2 separate regions of the Homo sapiens genome follow, and region 2 is linked to region 1. A link means that fine-mapping ties the variant in region 1 to the expression of a gene that starts in the linked region. Tissue or cell type: thyroid. Region 1 holds a variant in brackets; the other region holds the start of a gene. All regions are shown on one strand. Distances are from middle to middle.

Region 1 (8,187 bases):
AGTATTTCATATTCTTTGATGTCATTGTAAATGGTACCATTTTTAAGTTTTAATCTCCAATTGTTTTTTGCTATTATATAGAAATATAATCAATTTTTATATTGTCCTTGTAACCTGTGCCCTTGCTAATCTCACATATTAGTTCTAGTAGGTTTTGATAGATTTGGAGATTTTCTATGTAGATGATAATGTTACCATTAATAAAGACAGTTTTAGTTCTTCCTTTCCAATCTGTATGCCTTTTATTTATTTGTTGGCTTGTTGCATAGACTAGGATCTCTAATATAATGTTGAATAGAGGTAATGAGAATGTGCATCCTTGTCCCATATCCAAGCTTGAGAAGAAAGTATGTAGTTTTTCATCATTAAGTATGATGTTTTAGGTTTTCCATAGATACTTTTTATCAGGCTGAGGAAGTTCCCTTCTATTTCTAACTTATTGGAATTTATGATGAATAGATGTTGAATTTAGTCAAATGTTTTTTCTGACTCTATTGAAATAATAATATGGTTGTTCTTCTTTAGTCTGCTGCTATGTCAAATTGCATTGATTGATTTTTGAATGTTGAGCCAAACTTGCATTCCTGGCAAAATAACCACTTAGATATAATGTGCTTTCTTTTATTTTTTAATATATGGCTAGATTCAATTTGCCAATGTTTTGTTAAAAATTTTTGAACCTATATTAATGAGGGATATTAGTCTTCAGTTTTTTTTTTCTGTTTCTGTTTTGTTATCTTGACAATGATAGCCTCATAAAATTAGTTAAGAAGTATTCTCTTCTATTTGCTGAACCATAGATATTTGCAGGTAAAATGATATTATCTTGGACTTGATTCAAATTATTTTGGATGGATAGAGGGATGGATGTGAATATACATGATACAGGATAGTCCAGGAGTTTATAATTATTGAAGATTAGCAATGATTACGTAAGGATGTACGACACTTTTCTCTGTGCCTCTGTATATGCATGACATTTTTGATAATAAAATGTTTTCTTTCTTTTTTTTCTTTTTTTGAAACAGAATATTGCCCGGTCGCTCAGGCTGAAGTGCAGTGGGCATGATCTCAGCTAATTTTTATGTTTTAGTAAAGATGGGTTTCACCATGTTGTCCAGGCTCATCTCAAACTCCTGACCTCAAGTGATTCACCCTCCTCAGCCTCCCAAAGTATTTGGAGTACAGGCGTGAGCCACCGTGGCTGACCAAATATTTTCTTTAAAAATAAACCAGTGTCTTTTCCACAGCTCTATCCTAGTTTCCAATTAGTATGTGAGTAGAGGAGAGCATCTCAAAAGTTCAGCAAAGGGAGAAGTAGAGATTTAGACAGAGTTCATAATTCTTTTAATGACTGTACTGGTCATTAGCGTCCAAATGTGTATTAAGAGGAGGGTAGGATACACTGAGTACAGCTTCAATTCAAAGGTAGGATTTAAGACCATCTTAATTTCTTGGCTAGTTCTTCAACTTAGCTTTGAAAAACTATCCTGTAATGCAATGGTTGTCAAACTTTAATGTGCATGAGAGAGCTTTTTAAAACACAGTTTGCTGGCTGGGTGCGGTAGCTCACATCTGTAATCTCAGCACATTGGGAGGCCGAGGCGGGCAGATCACCTGAGGTCAGAAGTTCAAGACCAGCCTGGTCAACATGGTGAAACCCTGTCTCTATTAAAAATACAACAATTACCTGGGCATGATGGTGGGCACCTGCAATCCCAGCTACTTAGGAGGCTGAGGCAGAAGAATCGCTTGAATCCAGGAGACAGAGGTTGCAGTGAGCTGAGATAGCGCCACTGCACTGCAGCCTGGGCGACAGAGCAAGACTCTTTCTCATAAAATAAAATAAAATAAAATAAAATAAAATAAAATAAAATAAAATAAAACACACATTGCTTAGGACAGTAAAACTCTTTTGTATGATATTACAATAATGGATTCATGTTATACACTTATCAAAACCTATAGCATATACAACACCAAGAGTGAACCCTCATGTAAATTTTGGAATTTGGATAATAATGATGTGTCAGTGTAGGTTTATCAACTGTAACAAATGTACCATTTTGGTGCAGGATATTGACGGTGGGGAAGCCATGCATGTGTGGAACAAGGAGTGTATGCCAACTCTGTACTTTTCACTCAATTTTGCTGTGAACCTAAAACAGCTCTAAAATATAAAGTCTATTTAAAAGAGCAGAACAAAAACAAAAAACACATTGTTGGACTCCATCTTTAGAGTTTCTGATTCAGTAGGCTTGAGGTGGAGCCTACAATTCTGCCTTTCTAATGAGTTTCCAGGTAATAGTTATGATGTTGGTCCATCAGCCACCAAGAACTTCTATTCTAGTATAATGCTTTTGATCTCAGAAATTTAAGCCTTCTCACAATTTAAACTCGGGGTTCAATCCAAATAGAATAGTATTTCATTCACAAGCTACATTGACTCTGAATTCTGTTAGATTCATTTTAGCAAACTTTGCTTGGGCATCGACTATGTACCAAGGCTCTTGTTAACCTCTATAGATACAAGGACACATATTAATGTACTGTCCCTGCCATTAAAGATTTTATAGTCTGATGTTCTAATCTTCAGTCTTGTTTAGTAATTTTAGAAAATATTTATGTTCAGTTCTAATCTCTTTCACTTCTAATGGATTATTTTTAACTTTGCTTCTTTAAAACAAATTAACCATTGAGTTCAGCTTATAGTATAAAGCATTATGATTTTTTTCTACATCTTGCTCCATAATATAATTCAGGTCTTCCCAAGTGTCCCCCAGAAGGGACCTGAGAAATCATCCCATTCATTCACTTATTCCCATTTTACAGTTAAGGAAAGAGAGGCTCAGAAAAGGCAACTTTTCCAGGTCACTGAGCTACTAAGTAAGAGGGCTGGAACTAAATTCAAGTTGTAGGACCACTAATGCTGTGCTCTTTCTGTGACATCAGGCCTCATGACTTAAATTCCAACATCAAAGAAAATTATGGATCCCCACATCTAGAAAATATTACAAATTTCCGTAGAATTTCACATTTAAATTAAATTATTGAAGATCTTTGTGAATTAAAGAAGAAAAGGTGGGGGAAAAGATGAAGGGATTGGGTGGTGGTGGTAGAAGTCATAATAGTAGTAGTATAGTAGTCATAACTTTCCATGTGTTACATAGTGTGACTTTCTTAGAATATCCACTCTTCTCAATAACTCTTTGAAGTATGTACAATTATTATATCCATTTTACAGATGAGGAAACTGAAGCACAAGAAGTTTAGTAATTTGCCCAAAGAGACATGGCTTTTCAATTCAATTTCATTTAGTAGTCTTAGGTACACTTAATCCCCCAAATGTAACCAAATTCTGCTAGGAGGGAGGTGTAAGTAATATTGAATCATTGTGTAGAGTTTTGTATAGTTCTTCAAAGCACCAAATCTCTTTTAGATAGCTTAGCAAATCTTATTGAGGTAGTTGAAACATAAGGAAATTTAAAATTCTTTCTTCTGCACCCGTTAAAAATTTATTTAACAGTTCTATTTTTCTTAACAGGTCAAATATTAAATAAAAATTGTTCTTTCAGCAATTGGATTCATGAACAGGTCAAAAGGCTTCATTGGAGTGGATGATGCAGAAGGTACACATGCATTCACACACACGTAGACACACACACACCCTCATTCAGTCTCATACATAAACAAACATTACCTTATACCCTAGGGGAATATTTTTAGCTATCTTTAGCCAAACTGGTTTCACTTGGCAGACTGCAACCCCCTACAGGTGGCACCTATTTTCTGTGAAGTGTTTCCTTTTCCCAGAACTGAGACATCGGCACCACATACCTCCTTGCTCTTCTCAACATCTGTTTCTACTT[A/T]TGTGCCAGATAGGGCCACCTGAGCTGTGAAGGGAAACAAAACAAAGGTTCATGGCTATTGTCTATCAAAATGTCATGTTTTGGTCCACCCAGATTGGGAAACTCGGTTGGAATGCCAAGCACTGGTCTACTGTAAGAAGGGGCTATGGGAAAAAAATATTTTCCTTATTCAACTGTTCGTGTTCATTAGGAAATAAGGTAGGGCTCTAGACCTTGGAGTCTAGGGAAACCAATTCATAGAGAGATTAATCATTCGCTATCACTTCTAAGGCATTGCATATTGCTGCACAGATGGTACAAAGAATATAGAAAGGCATAAAACTTACCCTGAAGAGGTTTATAAGATTAGGAACTCAGAATTGGTACATTAGAAAATAAGTATGTAAAGCTAGATAGTGTATCCAATTTACAGGGCAAGCAATTAAGTATCATAGGCATTCCTTGGAAGGAGTGATAACCAAGAACTGGGGTGATAGGAGAACCTCAGTGGTGATGAAACTTGAAAAAAGTAACTGATTTCATTGTCATGACAAATGAAATCATTTTATTTTAAAAGATTACCAGGATGAAAATGACCAAGTCATAACTCTCCTAAGACCCGAATCCCATGACACCCAAGAAAATCTGTGCCCGTGTTTCCTAAATGTGTTTATTTTCTGCTTCTCTTATTTTCCTATAGTCAACATTCAATTTATCCGCAGTTGAGGATAGAGACTGGCAAGGATAAATCTAGGGATATACCCTACCCTCCATTTTTGCCTTCAGGTTTCATTTCTCAAATGAAAGTTCTCAAAATTTTTACTAGAGTCGAGTAACATGCATCCAAATGTAATTACTTGAATATATACATGCGCAAGTCTACAAGTTGCCTGTAATGAGGATATTCATTGCAAAATTAGATGATGAAAATGTTAAAAAATGGAAACAACCTTAATACCTACCAGTAGGGAGGAGTTGCATATATTGCTCATGGAAAAAAAGCAAGCTGCCAAGCAGTAATGTCTAGTATGATTCCATTTCATTAAAACAACAATCAAAAAGAATACCTGTACCCTGTGCATGTACCTCATGCATAAACCAATTCTGGGAGGCAATATGAGAAATTGTTAATAATGCTAATATCTGTGGGACTGGCATTTGGCATTTCATTTTTTTACTTTATTTCTTCTTTGCTGATCAAGATTTTAAAATGTATACTACATTTATAATGTTTAAAAATAGTTTAATATACATGTATATATATGTAATATTTAAATTTTTGATTTTCAGATCTTCTGTTTAAACAACAAATGACCTGGAGACTCAAAGTGAAGCAGACTCAACAAAAGGTTCAGAAAAGTCAACCATTAAGCAGAGGAATGGCCACTAGGCACAGGTTTTTTTAAATTTAATGGTATTGGTCATGGCCTCACAGAAAACAAAATTTTCTTCAAGCAATAGATGATAAATATTTTGGGCTTTTGGTACTAATAAGTAGTTCAAAGCCTCAGTAGCTTGAATTTCAAAACTGAACAGGGCTCATGGAACTACTCAAAAATCGTGAGAGGCTGATGGTTTAAGAAGTGGGAAAGACATTGCTAAGATGATCTGTTTGCTGATGGCATTCTGTGACAGCTGCCAGCCTCAAGCAAGATTGAAGAATGCTAGATGTTGAAGTGGCCTTTCTTCTCCTTTGCCTGAAGAGCTCTGAGCAAGGCAGCCAGATGACCATGAACTCTGTGTTTGGGATCTGGAGATAAGTGGGAGAGGCTCAGAGCATCCTGCTGATGCACCAGTTCAGGGAAAGTTAGTTGACGCAACCCTTTGCCTTCCGCTTGGCTTGAATAAAATCAGGAAAAGTGGCTTAGACTCAGTACTTTCTCTGCCCTCCTCAGGGTCCACATGTTTCCTGACCCTTAACCTTTTTTTCTGTTCAGGGGCAGTCACCTGCACATGAGCTTAGCTGACAATGACATCCTGCCCATCTCAATGTCCTGTACCCATCCTTGTGGTTCACTGGGCTGCCCATGTCTTCTGCAGACAACTCGCTTCATGTCTAGCCATTGTCTGACCTAACCATTCAGCCAAGATGGTTTTCTTATTTAACAGGATTGGAGACCTTTGAAATGGGCAAGTTGGAGGGAGTCCCCGTAAAAACCAACTAGCTAATTTACAAAAACACAACCCTCAAGAAATAAATTGAACCGCCTTTTTTTTTTTCTTTTTTTTTTTTCTGATTCCTGTTAAGGAGGGTATAATGGCCAAACCTTTTAGGCTGATGATAAAACACCTGCTCAACACTAACTGTCCTTTTTTTCTTTCCTTTTAGAAAAATATATACAAATTTTGGAGCTCTAGTGACAGAAATGGATCAACTCTGTGTGTCCATTTTTCTGGTTACATCCTATAGGAAGTAAATGTACATTATAAATGATGGAACTCCCAATTATGATATAGTGGAGAAAGCACTGAGCTGAGGGTTAGAAAACCTGATTTTTATATCAATTCGGCCACTAAATACTCTGGACCCTGTTTCTTCATTAGCAAAATAAAGGAGAAGATTGTTGTCTTCTTGTTATGAAATGCTTTGCTTCCACGGATCAGCAGCAAGTCAGAGGCAGGAATCATACTCAGTTGCATTTTCTGCTCCATCTGGAGATCTACATTCAGTTTGTCACCTATCACAAGTGTCCTGGAATGAGGCAAATTCCCTCATTCTGGTAAATAATCAGAACCAGTTTTTTTGTCATGTTTGCTACTCTCTGAGAAACTTAGCGTGTTTTCAGAAATTATATTGTACGGTTAATTTTCCCCATGGTAGCCTGAGAACTTTAGTGTGGAAGAAGAGAAAAAAAAACAAGGAAGGAAGGAAGCAAGGAAGGAAGGGAGGGAGGAAGGAAGGGAGGGAGGAAGGAAGGGTGATAGATAGATGATGGACAATACATAAATGACAGGTAGGTAGGTGGATGAATAGACGATGGATGGATGGATGGATGGATGGATGGATGGATGGATGGATGGATGGATGGATGGATGAATAGACGGATGGATACGTGAATACATAGATAGATGGAATCAAGTTTCTAAGCATGGTCTCTAGAGCCAGACTACCTTGGTTCAAATCACAGTACTACAACTTTCTGACTGAATCACCTCAAATTATGTCACCTATTTGTGACTCAGTTAACTTAATGGAAATGGTAAAATTCAGAAAGCAATATTTACCTCATAAGGTGGTTGTCAAGATTAAGTAGGATTATTTATGTAAAGCTTTCAGCATAGTGCTGGATGTATAGTAAGTGCTCCATAAATATTAATTATTATTATAATTATTATTTAGGAAATAGTATGTATGTTTCCCTTTCACCATCATTCCAACCACCAATCCCCCTGACCCCACACACACACCCAGAGGTAACCACTGCTAGTGGTTTGGTGCATGTTTTCTCTTACATACATAGATATATACACATGCTCATGCACTCACAAACACACACTCCTTACAATTTTTGTGTTACTGTTCCCAAAAGTGGGTTATATATCATATATTGTTCTGAGATGATTGTTTCCTTTTGCTTAGCAATATGCCTTATAGAGCTTTGTATGTCATGTATAGACATTAATTCATACACCAAAATACACTAAATCATGCCTCTATTGATGAACAGTTAAGCGGTTTCAAATTTTTCAATGGATAGCCTTTAATATGTCTTTTTTCTCCTATGTAACTATTTCTATAAGATTGATTCCTATCTTGCCGAGTTATAATATATGTGCACTCAAATATCTTATATGTATCCTGCCCTATTATCCTCTAAAAGGATATTCTGAATTTATATACTCCCATTGACAATTTATGAGTCTGTTTTTGCACCCTTTTACTCTTATGGAATACTGTTAATATTTTTAAATCTGTAAATTTTATGAGCAAAATGTGCTACTTTATTTTAATTTATAATTCTCTAATTATTTATTTATTTGTTCATTGAAATTGACCCAGGCTTTTTGTAGACATTTACTGTGTTTTCCTTCCCCCAATCCAAACATTTATCTGAAAATGTTGCCAAAAAGTGTGAACAAGGCACTGCACAATGCCCAGCTGATAGGATAATCACTATTCTGGGTATCTCCTTCCTTGTGTTACAGCCAAGAAGGTTGGAAAAAAAGAGAGAAGTTTTCCATTAGAGAAGTTACATCCTTATTCTCTTTATTTATTTCTTTTGTGTTCTTTCAATAGTTTGACTTGGAAATCCAACATTTGAAATTGGGACTATTCTAATACTATCTTATGAACAGTTTGCTTAATTACATGGGGAAAATCAAAACCCAAATGCTCTTA
Region 2 (8,187 bases), 800 kb after region 1:
TTTTGCACTTGAAGCAAGAGTCTTTGCTAGCGTTATCTTTGTAGCCCTTTGTGTTTCCCTTGGATGCTCTTTGGGCATTCAAGGCATCACTAATGATGGCTGCCATAATTCTGGCTTGCTGGGTTTTTTTTTACTCTGTTCCCCTTTTCCTTCCTCCAGTTCATGATTGTTGTACACCATAAAGATGGTGTCAAGGAACTGGTTTTGTCTATGGCCCCCTTTGCAGCTTCTGGAGCTTATGTCTAATGTCTGGGGTAGAGTGACTAATGAAATGTTGTGCCATTAATATCTTGCCTTCAGGAGAAGCAGGATCTAAGTTTGTATATATTTTAAAGGCTTCTTCTAGTCTACTGTAAAACATGGTTGGATTCTCTTCTTTCCCCTGAGTAATCTCCTTAAACTTATCATAGTTTACTCCCTTTGTTACACCTTTTTTCATTCCCCTCAGGGGTGCCTCAAGAAATTTAGTTTGATTATTCATTCTCATGGGGGTATTATATTTCCAAATGGGTTCAGTAGTAGGGACTGTATCTGCTCCCGATCTGTTGCCCTGCAGGCTACATGCAAAATGTTCATCAGTGTCCTGGCGAGCAGCCTCAAATATTCATTCCTTTTCCAGAGGTGTGCAACAGGTGGCCAAAATGAATTGCATGTCTCTCCAAGAAAGGTTGAAAGCCAAAGTCAAAGTCTGGAACCCAACAGCAAATTTCTGAGTAACTGCCCAGTTTTTCCTTACATTGTTGGATATCAGTTATTAAGAAGGAGACCTGTACCCTGATGGGACCCTCAGTTCCTGCCACCTCTCTGAGAGGTAGCAGGACAGGTGGTGTCATTGAATATGGTGTTCCTAAGCTAGTATGGGGAGGGATCGCTAGGACCCGTGACTCTTGTCCTTCTTTTGAAGCTTCAAGTGCACTTGGACCTGGATTATAGGAAGGTGGCTATTGTTCACCCTGACACATATGTACCCCTTGCAAGAGGGGGTTATCTACAGTATTCGGCTCAGTTTTAGGAGTTTCTTTCTGTGGAGAAGTGCTGGGAGCTTTGAAAATGGTAGGCTTTTGGTATAGGGCCATGAAGGCTTGCACATATGGTATTTCTGACCATTTGCCTTGTCTCTTACAAAATAGTTCTAATTGGAGGATGGTGTCATAATTGAGACTTCCATTGACTGGCCATTGCTCTTGACTCCCTAGCTGAAATTGAGGCCAAAAGGTGTTACAATAAAATATTAGGCATTTCTTTCACAGGTTTTCAGGGTCAAATTGATTCCAATGATTGAAGATGCAGCCAAGAGGGGAGTCAGATAGGACTGAAGGAATGTTTCCCAACACTAATCTGTGGAAAAGAAGAAGGGAGTTGTCAGGCCTCTGAGCCCAAGCCAAGCCATTGAATCCCCTGTGACTTGCACATATATGCCCAGATGGCCCAAAGTAACTGAAGAATCACAAAAGAAGTGAAAATACCCTGCCCCGCCTTAACTGATGACATTCCACCACAAAAGAAGTGAAAATGGCCAGTCCTTGTCTTAAGTGATGACATTACCTTGTGAAAGTCCTTTTCCTGGCTCATCCTGGCTCAAAAAGCTCCCCCACTGAGCACCTTGCGACCCCCACTCCTGCCCACCACAGAATAACCCCTTTGACTGTAATTTTCCTTTACCTACCCAAATCCTATAAAACTGCCCCACCCCTATCTCCTTTCGCTGACTCTCTTTTCAGACTCAGCCTGCCTGCACCCAGGTGAAATAAACAGCCTTATTGCTCACACAAAACCTGTTTGGTGGTCTCTTCACATGGACGCGCATGAAAGGAGTCTCATAGGTTCATGAGTTTACATCTAGAGTCTCCCTTAAGGGTGTCCCCTATTGAAGGATCTGGACTGTAATTTTGGTCCATTTGGGCATCCCCCAAATGGACCTGTCCTCTGAGTGCCAGACGTCTCTAGCCATAGTGGGCACCAGTGCCATTTGAAGAAGGATCCTGCCATAATTGGTGACCTATGATAAGTTTCCCTTTAGTTCCTGGGTGTAACCTTTGGCTTCTAGTATCCCTGTAGCTGGCCAAAAGAGTTTCTTCCCAAATGGTTTCCTTAATTATTGTAGTAACTCTAGTTTGAAGGGCAAGGAATTGCAGACTGCCTAGTTTAAATTTGTTATTAGAGACTGGCCTCTCAATAAGATAGTAGAGTGCCCTCTGACTATATGAGATAAACCAGGCACAGTAATTTCCCCATGGATCCACTGTGCAATTTATGCAATGATCCGAGAGTCTCCACCAGGAGTTTTCTTTTAGCACCAGATGTACTAAACTAAAACAATCTAGATCTGATCCCTCACAGAAGAAGCAGGGTACTCTCATTATCCAGGTGGTTGGCCCTAATCTTCAGGCTGATGCTAATCCTTGGGCTCCCCACAGTCAGTTACCTGTTGTCCTGGCCCTTTGGGTTGGGGGGAGATCTCTAATTGGTCAAAACATGATATCCCAACACAAATGAAGAAAAGAAAAAAAAAATAAAACAAGCAGCAAGGCTGGGCACGGTGGCTGGCTGGGCATGGTGGCTCATGCCTGTAATACCAGGACTTCGGGAGGCCGAGGTGGGCGGATCACCTGAGGTCAGGAGTTCGAGACCACCCTGGCCAACATGGTGAAACTCTGTCTCTACTAAAAATACAAAAATTAGCCGGGCATGGTGGTGGGTGCCTGTAATCCCAGCTACTCAGGAGGCTGAGGCAGGAGAATTGCTTGATCCCGGGAGGTGAAGGTTGCAGTGAGCCGAGATCATGCCACTGCACTCCAGCCTGGGTGACAGAGCAAGACTCCATCTCAAAACAAAAACAAAAACAAAAACAAAAACAAAAACAAAAAAACAAGCAGCAAATAATGTAATAATTATAGCCACACAAACATGCACCTCACTGTTGCAGGGATTGATCTTGTACCCCGTGGGACCCATCTGTTCCATTCCCCAATCAGGTTATCCTGTCACGTTGAGGCAGGAATTTAAAGAAAGTTTTGTACTGCATTTACTCACTCTAAGGATAGTAACAAGCAAGGCTATAGGAAGGTCATGGTGACCTAGTCTAAGAAGCCAGGAATGAGCTCCAAACACCCCTGAGCAATGGTTAAGAAAAACAAATTCCTTTACTGTTTCTCTTTCCTTAGACCATTAATTATGATTATTTTTGCCTATGTTTAGAAAGATTTGTAGGTTCCTGTTTTTCTTTTGACGCAGCTGCAAGGCCACCAGCTAAGCAAAGCCAAAAGTTATGCAAATTTCAGCAGTTATGCTATAGATTACAAAACCTGTCACTGTGTGATTTACTGCCTTGGTTCTGCTTTTTTAATTTAGCCTATATAAGCCAAGCTCTGTCTTTGTTCAGGGCTCAGCTTTTTGGATGCAAATCCACGGAGCCAGTGCACACCTTAATAAAATCCTCCTGCTCCACCCATTGGTCTTTCTGGTCCTCTGCTTTCCCGCAACAATGGGAGTCTTCAAGCGGCCAGTGCCTTTTTCGTTCTTAACTGCCCAATCCGTGCCAGCAGAAGGCAGCTTTAAACCAAAGTGAAAGAGCTGAAGCAAAAAAGAAAGAAAATAAAAAGTCCCAGTTCTTCTGGGCTTACCTCCTGGCTGGCTCACCAAAATATGTTACCAGATTGGAAGTTGGGAGTTCCAGGTTCTTGGTGTTATGAACAAAGAATTGGATGAGACACACAAATAACCACCCCACAAGATTTATTAAGCAAAGAATATACCAGAGAGAGGAACGGGCTTATCTTCAAGTGGTGTCAGCCCTGGATTAATATAGCCTTTGTTCTTTTATACCCACTTCCTACACTTCTTTAACTCTAGGGAGGGGATTTCCTATAATTGTCATATCTGTTTTCTTGTTTTTTCTCTCTTAGTGCGCCTGCGTGAGCTTGCCATAATTTTAAGTGTATGTATGATAGGCATTCCATAGGTATGAGCTGGTCAGTCTTCTGACTTCCTTCCCTATTCTGCTGCCTCAGAAGGCCTATTTGGGAGAAAAGTAAACAGGAAAGAATGAAACTCCCTCTGACTGTCTGGGAAATTTTCAGGGGAGAAATGGAATTCTAGGATTTTACTATGTGTTTTCCATCTGTGAGTGGACTATAACGGTTTATTTCAATTTAATTCCACTCACAAATGTTTTGCTGAGTAGAATAGTCTCTGACTCAAGGAATTCACATTTGGGGGCGGCAGAGAGAGACGGATCAACAAATGATTGTATTTTGATGGATGAATTCTATGGTTCTACAGAGAGCCTGCGGGAGATACTATTGTGGGATAATTAATTGCATTGGGTGGTTGTCAGGGAAAGTTGCAGAGACAACGTGATATCTGCGTTTGGGGATTACGTGGTGAGCAGGCGTTCACCTTGCAGGTGAAGGCTACTCCGCTGCAGGGACCGGTACTGGGGCGGCGTTTGTTCCCCGCACGCAGTAGGTGATCCACACCTCCCGCCGACAGGAGGAAGAGGATGCCAGCTCAGGCACCAGCTGAGGTTTGGCATTTGCTGGCCGCGGGCGCCGACCTCCAGGGGGCGCCGTGGCCTCGCGCTGTCCGGGCCGTTGCATTTCCGGGCACTGGGGCTCCGCCATCGTCGCCAAGCGCGTCCCCGCCGCGAGCCGCTAATCGTCCGCCGCTCCCGTTACCGGGGCAACCGCGGCGCCTCCTCCGTGTCGGCCCCGATCGTCCCTCCGCGCCATTTTCAAACTGCTCTAGCGCCGGAGCCCGTGCCTGGACGGAAGGAGCTAGTGGGGGACTCGAGGCCTGAGGGCAATGCGGCTGGAGGCGGAGGCAACGGCGGCTGGAGCTGCCGGTGAGTCCGGATGTGGGAGCCAGAGGGCCAGCTGCGGCGGTGGTGGCGCCTTCGCCTTCTGGGCGGTACCCGCGGGCCGGGCTCGGGCACTGCCGGGAGGCCGCGCGGCCGCGGGAGGAAGTGAGGCCAGGCCGGGTCAGACCGGGCGGGGAGGGGCGCGGGGACTCTTCCCACCCACCCCGCTCCCACACCCCCTTCCCGTCAACACCCGACGGTAAAGTTGCAAACCGGAGATTGGGTGGAGGAGAGCTTGGGCCGACTCGTCAAGGAGCGTCTGTGTGGGCCGTGCAGACAGGCTTGCTGTTGACCAATGGATAGATTTAAACATTAAAATGCCTTCTCAGTGTAGCAGTCATCCATGCTCTTTGTAACAAAAATGTCGCAAAGCGTAGGACGACAGCCTTTAATTAACCTTTGCCCAGCTCCTTTGAAGCCTCTCCACTGCTTTCCAGCCTTTACTACTTTGAGTTCAATAAGAAAGGACTCTGAGATAACCACAGCTAACGGGTTTCTTTGTTGTCGTTTGGGGTTTCTTGTTTATCTTCTTAAGCCCTGTGCACACATACATACAGCATTAAATGTACTGGTTTTGAGACGCCAACCCCCAGAGTTAAGTAGATGGATACTTCTACACATATATGTATGGGGGACCCCCAAACCTAACCTTTTATGTTGCTTTGCTAGAAACTTAGAGTATAGCCACCATATTTGGATGGGGGTTATGGGGAAAGACAACAGTTCATGGGTGGGGACGGCCTAACATGTTTCTATCTGGGAGGATTTTAATCCGTCCTGTGTATTGAGGCCCTGGCCATGATTTATTGATTCATATTCATTCTCATTCTCTCCCCTCCAAAGCAGGATGTGAGGAGGTATTATCTCTGGGTAACTGGAGTTGGTAGCAAAGAGGGGAAATGTTTTGAGTGGTGCACCGCCTGTAAGTTTACACCCTGCTAGTAATACACCTGGATTTGTCAGGTGTATTTCTGATGTCTGCAGGAATTTCCCTAAAAACCCTGCATCACTTAGGTGTCTCTTGTGGAAAGAACCTAGGAAATCTATGAGGAAGCCATTCAAAAAAAGTTAACAAGAGCAAAGAGAAAGATATACAGAAAGGAGTGACCAAGGAGAGACTCAGGAGACCTGGTCTCTGATGACTGCCCACCTACTTTGTGGCCCCGTGGTTTTGGAAGAGTTACTTTCTTGAGGCAGCCTTTCCTCATGTTTAAGTAGGGATAATATCATTGGTCTTTCTCCCTCACAGGGTAGCTGTGAGGATCGACTTTTACATGTATGCTCATGCATGTAATGCATTTTTTATATATTGTGAAGAACAACAGATGTAAAACAAAATTTTTATTTGGCTTAGAAATACGAGTACCATGACTACAGTTAGTTAGCAAAGGTTAGAAAAGAGCAGAGTTTCTAAAGAAATGATCTTTGGGCTGAGCATATTGGCTCACACCTGTAAACCTAGCACTTTGGGAGGTAGAGGTGGGAGAATACCTTGAGCTCAGGAGTTGGAGACCAGCCTGGGCCACATAGCAAGACCCTGTCTCTAAAAAAGGTAACAATTAAAATAAAAAAAAAAAAGAAATGCTCTTTGGATAACTCCATTTTAGGGCAGATTGATAGGAATATATTCATAAATATTTAAAAAGACAAAGATAAAAACTTGAACAGAGGTACTTATGTGTGTCTTTTTTTTTAATTGAAGTGAAATTTACATGATGAAATGCATAGAGTTTAAGTGTACTATTTGAAAAGTAAATTCTCTAAATGTATACACTTGTGTAACCACTACCCCAATCAATGTAATATTTTCATTACCCTAAAAAGTTGTGTCTTAACTCTTAACGGGCAATCTGCAGCCCGCCTCACCTCCCCAGACAACTCTTGTTTTAATTTCTGGCCCCATAGTTTTAATTTTACTTGTTCATCAACTTCATGTAAATGGAGTCATACAGTATTTGTCTGGTTTCTTTTGCTCAAATAATGTTTTTGAGATTCATCCATGCTGTTGATGTGTATCAGTAGTTCCTTTTATCCCTTAGTATTGCACTGTATAAATATATCATACTTTACCCCTTCTGCTGTTGATGGGGGTTTAGGTTGTTTCCAGTTTGGGGCTACTATGAGTAAAGCTGTGAACATTCTTGTAGAGTATTTTTGTGAATATTTTTTATTTCTATAAATACCTGGGAATAAAATCACAGGGTTATAGTCCAGAAGTATGTTTAACTTTATAAAAAAACTGCCAGACTTTTTCCAAAGTGATTTTACATTCCTGTCAGCAATGTGTGAAGATTCCAGTTGCTCCAGATCTTTGTCGACATTTGCTATTGTCGGTCCTTGTAATTTTAGTCATTCTAGTTTGGGAGAAAATGTACCTTGTTGTTTTAATTTGTATTTCCATGTTGACTACTGTTGAGCACCATTTCATATCATCATTCCCATTCAGACACCTATGCGAGGTGTCTGTTCGAATCTTTAGCGCAACTAAATTACAGTTTTAGCCCAAATTAATGTTCTTATTGGGATGTTTGTCTTATTATTGAGTTGTAAGAATTCCTTTTATATTCCCTATACAAATCCTTTGTCAGATATTGTGAATATTTTCTCCCACTCTTTGGTTTGCCTTCTCTATTTTAATTGAGTATTTTGATGAGCAGACATTTTAAATTTTGATGAAGTCCAATTTATCAAATTTATCTTTTATGTTTAGTGCTTTTAAAAGAGGCCTCTCTGAGAAGTCTCTGCCTACTTCAGGCTTAGGAAAAATCTTTGTTTTCTCCTAGAAGCTTTAGGATTTTAACTTTTACATTTAGTTGTATGAGGAAGTATTTATTTTAATGCAGTAACAGGAATATCATAAGCATTGGCTTTAAATCTGAATTTTCCAGAAGGCTACCTACCTGAAGAAAAACAAAAAATAATTGCTTCATATTAAAATAATTTTTTCTTCTTATTGTGAAACAACAATCATAGCTATAATAAGATAATGATGTTTCATTCTTTTCTCTCAGGACTTTAATTTTTGGAAGTGAATAAAACTTGTTTTAGAAGACGAGATGACTACAGCTGTAGAGAGAAAGTATATTAATATTAGGAAAAGGCTGGATCAGCTGGGATACCGCCAGACTCTGACAGTGGAGTGTTTACCTTTGGTAGAAAAACTTTTCAGGTAAAGACAAAAATACAGTTTTCAACCTTTATGATCCCTAACCACTTACCTCATTTCTGATTGAACTTCATGCTTTGGTAAAGAAAAGGGTAGCTTTCCGGAAAGGCTTTCAATCATGAAGCTTATCTGTTTTTTCCCTGTCCTCAATCCAGGCCTTCCA

What was found. PIP is the estimated chance that this variant, and not a neighbour inherited with it, causes the effect.
Region 2: CEP135 starts here. The variant in region 1 is fine-mapped to the expression of CEP135 in thyroid (GTEx, PIP 0.96).

The regions. Positions count from the first base shown.
Region 1 is chr4:55,140,315-55,148,501 of GRCh38, forward strand. No RefSeq gene overlaps it. Among named protein-coding and RNA genes, the nearest start is that of KDR, 19 kb to the left of the region's middle. The variant A/T (reference allele first, on the strand shown) is at 3,870.
Region 2 is chr4:55,944,217-55,952,403 of GRCh38, forward strand. CEP135 (centrosomal protein 135) reads left to right here and starts at 4,729. Exons shown (of 26, transcript NM_025009.5): 1 at 4,729-4,843; 2 at 7,870-8,027. The coding sequence starts at 7,915. It overlaps EXOC1-AS1 (EXOC1 antisense RNA 1), which reads right to left and starts at 3,796. Exons shown (of 5, transcript XR_941069.4): 1 at 3,624-3,796. It overlaps LOC124900705 (a long non-coding RNA gene), which reads right to left. Exons shown (of 3, transcript XR_007058124.1): 3 at 8,175-8,187. RefSeq lists enhancers at 3,538-3,687, 4,306-5,270 and silencers at 4,485-4,624, 4,675-5,134.